Regions from separate parts of the Homo sapiens genome. Here region 1 is linked to region 2. Evidence: fine-mapped expression QTL. A gene starts in region 2. The other region holds a variant in brackets. All regions are shown on one strand. Distances are from middle to middle.

What was found. PIP is the estimated chance that this variant, and not a neighbour inherited with it, causes the effect. A credible set is the group of variants that fine-mapping cannot tell apart.
Region 1: its variant is the best candidate, but not a certain one, in a credible set for the expression of POLR3E in whole blood (INTERVAL, PIP 0.61).

The regions. Positions count from the first base shown.
Region 1 is chr16:22,392,287-22,396,559 of GRCh38, reverse strand. It overlaps the pseudogene SLC68A2P. Among named protein-coding and RNA genes, the nearest start is that of CDR2-DT, 20 kb to the right of the region's middle. The variant C/G (reference allele first, on the strand shown) is at 2,070.
Region 2 is chr16:22,294,875-22,299,147 of GRCh38, reverse strand. POLR3E (RNA polymerase III subunit E) reads right to left here and starts at 1,739. Exons shown (of 21, transcript NM_018119.4): 1 at 1,611-1,739. TRL-AAG2-4 (tRNA-Leu (anticodon AAG) 2-4) reads right to left here and starts at 2,008; the gene lies at 1,927-2,008. RefSeq lists silencers at 519-658, 1,669-2,118 and enhancers at 869-1,008, 1,451-1,995.

The DNA.
Region 1 (4,273 bases), 97 kb before region 2:
TCATCCTTTTCTCCTTTATTTATTCAACTCCTCAAAAAGAAAACCAGCCTGAGGGCTGGGTGCGGTGGCTCACGCCTGTAATCCCAGCACTTTGGAAGGCCGAGGCAGGTGGATCACTTGAGGTCAGTAGTTGGGAGACGAGCCTGGCCAACATGGTGAAACCCCATTTCTACTAAAAATACAAAAATTAGCCAGGCATGGTGGCACATGCCCGTAATCCCAGCTACTTGGGAGGTTGAGGCAGGAGAATTGCTTGAATCTGGGAGGCGGAGATTGCAGTGAGCTGAGACCATGCCATCACACTCCAGCCTGGGTGGCAGAGCGAGACTGTCTCAAGAAAAAGAGAGAGAGAGAGAGAGAGAGAGACTGTCTCAAGAAAAAGAGAGAGAGAGAAAGAAAAGAAAGAAAGAAAAGGAAAGAAAAGGTAAGAAAGAAAGAAAAGGAAAGAAAGAAAGAAGAAAGAAAGAAAGAAAGAAGAAAGAAAGAAAGAAAGAGGAAGGGAGAAAGGGAGGGAGGGAGGACGGAGAGAGAAAGAGAAAATGAAAACATAGTGCTCACCCTTCATTATTTTATCCAATAAAGTGTTAAAGAGACTTAGCCAAATGAATAACAAGAACAACAGATTCCAATGAGCTGTCATTATTTTTTTTTTTTGTCTGAGGCAGAGTCTGTCACCCAGGCTGGAGTGCAGTGGCACCGTCTCGGCTAACTGCAACCTCCACCTCCCAGGTTCAAGTAATTCTCTGCCTCAGCCTCCCAACTAGCTGGGATTACTGACACCCACCACCACGCCCGGCTAATTTTTTGTATTTTTAGTAGAGACAGTGTTTCACCATCTTGGCAGGCTGGTCTTGAACTCCTGACCTCATGATCCACCCACCTCAGCCTCCCAAAGTGCTGGGATTACAGGCGTGAGCCACCACGCCTGGCCAAGCTGTCATTTTTTACCACAATAATTTACACGTGTTAATTCTCTAGAAATTAAGAATAAATTTCAAGCAACTTTGGATTTTCTTTTATTTTTTGTAGAGACAGGGTTTCGCTGTGTTGCCCAGGCTGGTCCCAAACTCCTGGCTTCAAGCAATCCTCCTGCCTCAGCCTCCCAAAGTGCTGGAATTACAGGTGTTAGCCATTGGGCCAGACCTGGATTTCCATTTTATAATAATTTTTTATTGAGATCAATAGAAAGTCCTATGTTTTTGTGAGGGCTTAAGAAAAATGACTGTTAAAATCTTTTGGCTATACTTCTCTTAACAACTAGTAACCAAGAGAGACTAAGAGAAAGTATTTACTGATCATATATCTGACAAAAGACATGTGCCTAGAATATACAAATAACTCCTACAACTCAATAATATGAAGACTAATTACTCAATTTAAAAAGACACAAATTATTTTAATAAATAACCAAAAAGATACATGGATGGCAAGTAAGCATATGAAAAGATGCTCAACATCATTAGTAGTCATTAGGAAAATGTAAATCAAAAACACAGTAAGATACTACATACCGGCCAGGCGTGGTGGCTCACGCCTGTAATCCCAGCACTTTGGGAGGCCGAGGCAGGCGGATCACGAGGTCAGGAGATCGAGACCATCCTGGCTAACATGGTGAAACCCCATCTCTAATAAAAATACAAAAAATTAGCCAGGCGTGGTGGCGGGAGCCTGTAGTCTCAGCTACTCGAGAGGCTGAGGCAGGAGAATGGCATGAACCCAGGAGGCGGAGCTTGCAGTGAGCCGAGATTGCGCCATTGCACTCCAGCCTGGGCGACAGAATGAGACTCTGTCTCAAACAAAAAAAGGAAAAAAAAAGTAAAGAGAAAGGTAAACATCTACCTTCCATACAACCCAGCCATTCTACTCCTAGGTATTTACTCAAGAGCAAGGAAAGCATATATCCATACAAAGACACAAAATGCTCATAGCTTTATTTGTAACAGCCAAAAACCAGATCCAACCCAAATGTCCATCAAGAGATGAAAGAAGGAAGTCCTGGCCAGAGCAATCAAGCAAAAGAAAGAAAGAAATTACATCCAAATAGGAAGAGAAGAAGTCAAACTATCTGT[C/G]TTTGGTGACAATATGATTCTATACATAGAAAACCCTAAAGACTCCACCAAAGGACTCCTGGAACTGATAAATGACTTCAGTAAAGTTTCAGGATACAAAATCAATGTACAAAAATCTGTGGCATTTCTTTACATGAATAATGTTCAAGCTGAGAACCAAATCAAGAATGCGATCCTATTTACAGTAGCCACAGAAAAAATTAACATACCTAGGAATTCATCTCACCAAGGAGGTGAAAGATCTCTACAAGGAGAACTATAAAACACTGCTGAAAAAAATCATATATGACACAAATGGAAAAACATTCCATGCTCATGGATTGGAAGAATCAATATTGTTACAATGTCCATACTGCCCACAGCAATCTACAGATTCAATGCTATTCCTATCAAACTACCAACATCATTTTTCACAGAGTTAGAATAAACTATTTGCAATTTCATATGGAACCAAAAAGAGCCCAAATAGCAAAGCAAGCCTAAGCAAAGAGAACAAAGCCAGTGACATTACCTGACTTCAAATCGTACTATAAGGCTACAGTAACCAAAACAGCATGGTACTGGTACAAAAACAGCCACATAGACCAATGGAACAGAACAGAGAACTGAGAAATAAAGCTGTACTCTTGCAGCCATCTGATCTTCAATAAAATCAACAAAAATAAGCAATGGGGAAAGGATTCCTTATTCAATAAATGGTGCTGGGATAGCTGGCTAGCCATATGCAGAAGACTGAAACTGCACCTTTCACCACATATAAAAATTAACTCAAGATGGATTAAAGATTTGAATGTAAGACTTCAAACTATAAGAATCCTAAAAGAAAACCTAGGAAACACCATTCTGGACATCAACCTTGGGAAATAATTTATTGCTAAATCCTTAGAAGCAATTGCAACAAAAACAAAAATTGACAAGTGGGACCTAATTAAACCAAAGAGCTTATGCACAGCAAAAGAAATTATCAACAGAGTAGGCAGACAACCTATAGAATGGGAGAAAATACTTGCAAACTATGCACCTGACAAAGGTCTAATATCCAGAATCTATAAGGAACCTAAGCAATTGACCAAGCAATAAACAAACAACTGCATTAAAAAGTGGGCAAAAGACATGAACAGATACATCTCAAAAAAAGACATAAGCAGCCAATCATGAAAAAATGCTCAACATCACTAATCATCAGAGAACTGCAAATCAAAACCACAATGAGATACCATCTCACACTAATCAGAATGGCTATTGCTAAAAGTAAAAAAAAAAAAACCAACAGACAGATAGACTGCAGAGAAAAGGGAACACTTATACGCTGTTGATGGCAATGTAAATTAGTTCAACCACTGTGGAAAGCAGTTTGGAGATTTCTCAAACTACCTAACACAGAACTACCACTTGACCCAGCAATCCCATTACTGGGTTTATATCCAAAAGGAAATAAATTGCTCTACCAAAAAGACACATACACTCTCCTGTTCATTGTAGCACTATTTACAATAGTGAAGACATGGAATCAGCCTAGGTGCCCACCAACGGTGGACTGGGTAAACAAAATGTGGCACATATACACCATGGACTATCACATAGCCATAAAAAGAATGAAATCATGTCCTTTGCAGCAACATGGATGCAGCTGGAGGCCATTATCCAAAGCAAATTAACACAGGAACAGACAAGCTAATACCACATGTTCTCTCTTATAAGTGGGAGATAAGCATTGGGTACTCATGGCAAAAAGATGGCAACAATAGACACTGGGGAATACTAGAAAGGCAGGGGGCAAGGGTTAAAAAACTAACTATTGGGTGCTATGTTCACTACCTGAGTGACAGGATCAATCATACCCCAAACCTCAACATCACACAATGCGCCCACATAACAAACCTGCACATATATTCCCTGAATCTAAAATAAAAGTTGAAATGATAAAAAACGTGGGCGGAGGGGGAGGAATTATTTAAAAAAAAAAAAAAAAGCAAATTGTGGTATACCCACATAATAGAATACTACTTGGCAATAAAAAGGAATTAAATATGGATACTCACAACATGACCAAAAGAATCCAGACCAAAAAATAGTACATTACTGTATGATTCCACTTATATAAAAACCTATAAAATGTAAACAAATCTATACTGATAGAAAGTAGCTCGACAGTTGCCTGAGAATTAGGGAGGTTAGGGAAGGGTGGAAGGAAGGGATTAACA
Region 2 (4,273 bases):
AGGATAGGTTCCCTGACCACCCTATTTTAAAAGCCTCCCCCAGCCTCCTCCCAGGCCCTACCACATCTCTGTTTTCTTTCCTTGGTGGGTCTCATCTTAATCTGGAACTACCTGGTCTATTTGCTCAGGTGTTGTTTGTCTTCTGCAATAGAACGTAAGCTCCATGAAGGCTTCTCAGTGCTTCAGTTTCCTCAACTATGAAATGCAGACAATCATACTTTACTTCATCAAAGCTGTTATGGGGAGCATTACTTTAAAAAAAAAATCCAGTGCTGGTTCTCTCAATACCTAGAACAGTGCCTGGCACGAAGTTGACACTCAATATAGTACAAAGAATACTTTATATTTAATCTTCTCATTAGCCCTATCAATAGAGATTTATCATCTTCAATTTGGAAATGACGAGACTGAGGTTCAGATATAAGCAACTCATCCAAGGTGGAATGAGGACAGAAACTTGGGTCTCGCTATGTCAAAGATCCTTATTCTTATTCTTAACCACTATACTGCACGGTTTTCTGATAAACGGCAGTATGGTTAAGTGGGTAAGAGCTTGGACCCGAGAACAAAACTGTGCAGGTTCAAATCCCACCACAGCTGCTTGGCATCTGTGACCCACCTGAGTTGTCTGGGTTTGGTATTCCTCCCTATTTTCATCCCTAAAGTAGGGAAACTAAGTACCGACCTCCAGACCCCTGCGGGGAAGGAGTAAGGACAGGACGCTAATAAACGTAACCTCTGGGAAGGTTTGTTATTACTTGACAACATGTTTTCTGCCAACGTAAGCGGGTAATGACGCTAAGCCACAAGTCAAACGCTGCAAGCAGGAGCGTCACCCGGTTTCTACTGAGCCGTCACCACAACCCTATGAGGTAGGAATTTCTATTATCTCTATTTCACAGATGAGGAAACTGTGGAGATCGCTAAGATCTCTTCTTTCCGCCTCCAAGCCCAAGGAATTCTAAAGCTAACCCAAAGGAACGACCTTGTTTGTTTACTGACACCTCCTCGGACCGAATGGTCAGGGCTGTATCCGGAACACAGAGTTGGCTCGGTAAACACTGAATGGTTGCCTGAATAAATGAATGAGGAATCCCTGGCCTCGCCGGGCAGAGGCTAATCCGGTTCAGCTGCGAAGTGGGGGCTCCGGCAGGCGCAGGTGCCCTCCCTGCCCATCGGGGCGGGCCGCCGATCCCGAGCCTCGCTGTCCAATGGGTTTCTGCTCCCTCGCGGGTGGTCAGGCCCCCCTTCTCACGCCCACCACGCAGTCCCTGCCGCGAGCCGCCACTACACCCGACGCGCGGACAGGTGTTTCTTCCGTAGGAGGCCTCCCAGGCCCGGATAGGGCAGGTCGGCTGGACCCTGAGTCACCGCCGCCAGCGTCGGCCGCGGCCTCCCCAACTCCCAGGTGTCAGGTCAAGGAAGTCAGAGTCCGGGGTCGGCCTGGAGCCGGCTGCCCCTCCTCCCCGCCCGAGTCCCGAGAGGCCTCCAGCTGCTAGGCACAGCGCGGCGCGGGCCTCCTTGGCCTACTCGGGAATCTAGCCCAGGCCCACGTCGTGAGTGCGGTCCGGCTCAAGCCCCAGCTCGGGCACTGCCAAGACGGGACTCACCTCTCCGCGGGGGCCGAGCGCGGACGGCGGCAACGGCCCAGTTACCCGCGGGCTGCAGAGACGGCGGCGGCCCGGCTCTCCTCTCAGGCGGCGGCCATGTTGCTGGTGGAGAAACTCCGGCGGACACGTGGGGGGGAGCGGGCCGGCCCCAGCGTTTCCTCTTACCCACAATGCCCCGCCCCGGTGCACGCGGCTCCGCCCCCTCCGCCGCGCCATTCATGCAGGCCGTGAGCCCCGCCCTGCAGCAGGGGGCGCTGATGGCACGCGCAAAACTGAGCCAGGAGTGTATGCAGCGGGGACAAAAAGACAGCAACCCTGGCAGCGGTGGGATTCGAACCCACGCCCCCGAAGAGACTGGAGCCTTAATCCAGCGCCTTAGACCGCTCGGCCACGCTACCCAGCTGCAATATGTTTATGCCAGAAAGCTACTTAATGCTTTTGCTTTTGCATTTAATCTGGACATTGCGAGGCGTTTTCGCTGAGGTTTTTTTTTTGCTTAACGTGTGTTCAAGGTGATCCCTATAGAATTATTTTAAAAAGCCGTGTTTTGGAAAATAAACACTTGCTCCAGTCTTTAGACCCAGGTTGGTTCCGAATAGGTATTAGAGCAAAACGCATTTTTAGAAACTTTACTCTGAGTTGGATGGTTAACCCGGAGACCCCTGGTTAACCCACAGGTAATCCATACGACCCGGATTGGGTGTCTCCGGGAGAAGAAATTGATCTGATCAGAAACATGCACCAGGGGATCTGACGGCCAAACCCTGGAGCTGGTCTGGGCAGTTGTCTCTGAAAAATTATGTTTAAATTTTTACTTACACAAATAACACGCGAATTATTGCAAAATATTTAAACTTTGCAGATAAGGTACAAATGCTCTTTGACCTTGACTCGCATCCTAGGCCCCTCCGCCGAGGTAACTAACCATTATTATCTGTTTAATATGAACTATGGTTTGAATGTGTCCCCCAAATTTCATGTGTTGGAAATTTAATCCCCAATGTGGCAGTATTGTGTGGTGGGCCCTTTAAGAGGTGATTAGATCATGAGGGTGGAGCCCTTATGAATGGATTAATCTCTTCATGGATTCATGGATTAATGGGTTAATGGATTAATGGGTTATCTTGGGAGGGGGACTGATGGCTTTATAAGAAGAGGGAGAGAGACCTTAGCTAGCAAGGGAGCAGCTCAGCACCCCCTCCATATGATGGCTTGTACTGCCTGGGAACTCTGCAGGTGTCCCCCACCAGCAAGAAGGCCCTCACCAGATGCACACTCTTGACCTTGGACTTCTCAGACTCCATAACTGTAAGAAATAACTTCCTTTTCTTTACAAATTACCCAGTTTCAGGTATTCTGTTATAAGCAACAGAAAATGGACTAAAACACTATATATCTTTCTAGATCTTTTGCTGTGAATTTATATGTTTATATCTATATGGATATATATAGATATAGCCATAGAAGATAGCTTTGTTTTTATTGTGTATGGATTTGAACACAAATATTGTCACATTATTCATATAGATCTGCAATTGGCTGTTATTTTTCACCAGACTGTATTTTAAAATACCTATCCGTGTGGATATGCAAAGATATTAAAAACAAAAATGCACAAAAATTACAAAGAAAAAAATTATCATCCATAGTGCCACCACCTGGCATTAAATTAATGACTTAGTATTGTGGCATTTTTTTCCTTTTCTTTTTTCTTTTCTTTTTTTTTTTTTTTTTTTTTTTTTTTTTTGATGTGGAGTCTCGCTCTTGCTGTCTAGGCTGGAGTGCAGTGGTGCGATCTCCGCTCACTGCAATCTCTGCCTCCTGGGTTCAAGCGTCTCTACTAAAAATACAAAAATTAGCCTGGCGTGGTGGCACATGCCTGTAATCCCAGCTACTCGGGAGGCTGAGGCGGGAGAGTTGCTTGAACCCGGGAGGCGGAGGTTGCAGCGAGCCGAGATCCCACCACTGCACTCTAGCCTGGGCGACAGTGAGAAACTCGGTCTCAAATAAATAAATAAATAAATAAATAAATAAATAAATAAATAAATAAAAAATAGATCACACTATTACAAATAGAAATTATTAGACCATTGCAAATAGAAATAAGTCCCCCTCCCATTCTCCCCTGTCTATAACTGTCATGAATTTGATGTGTATCTTTCCAATAATTTCTTACATTTTTACTATAAAATTTATGAATAATATCTAAAATGGTTATCTGTATGTTTTTCACTTATATAAATGTTAGCACATTGTACTGATATCCTAAAACTTGCTTTTCTCATTTCAACAGTATTATTATTATTATTATTTTAAGAGAGTGTTGCTCTGTCACCCAGGCTAGAGTACAGTGGTGCAATCATAGCTTACTGTAGCCTAGACCTCCCGGGCTCAAGCCATCCTCCCACCTCAGCTTCCCAAGTAGCCAAGATTACAGGCATGAGAGACTGTGCCAGGCCCAACATTATGTTTTTGAGGTCTGTTATGATGCCTATAGATCTAATTCATTCATTCCATGCCATGTACAACTTTTAAGTTGTTACTAAATTTTTGTCATTACACACAATATGGCAGGAAGTATCCTTGCACATGGCTCCTTGTCTTACGTATGGACATTTCTCTAGGGTATACACTAGAAATGAAATTGCTGGTCTATATTTATA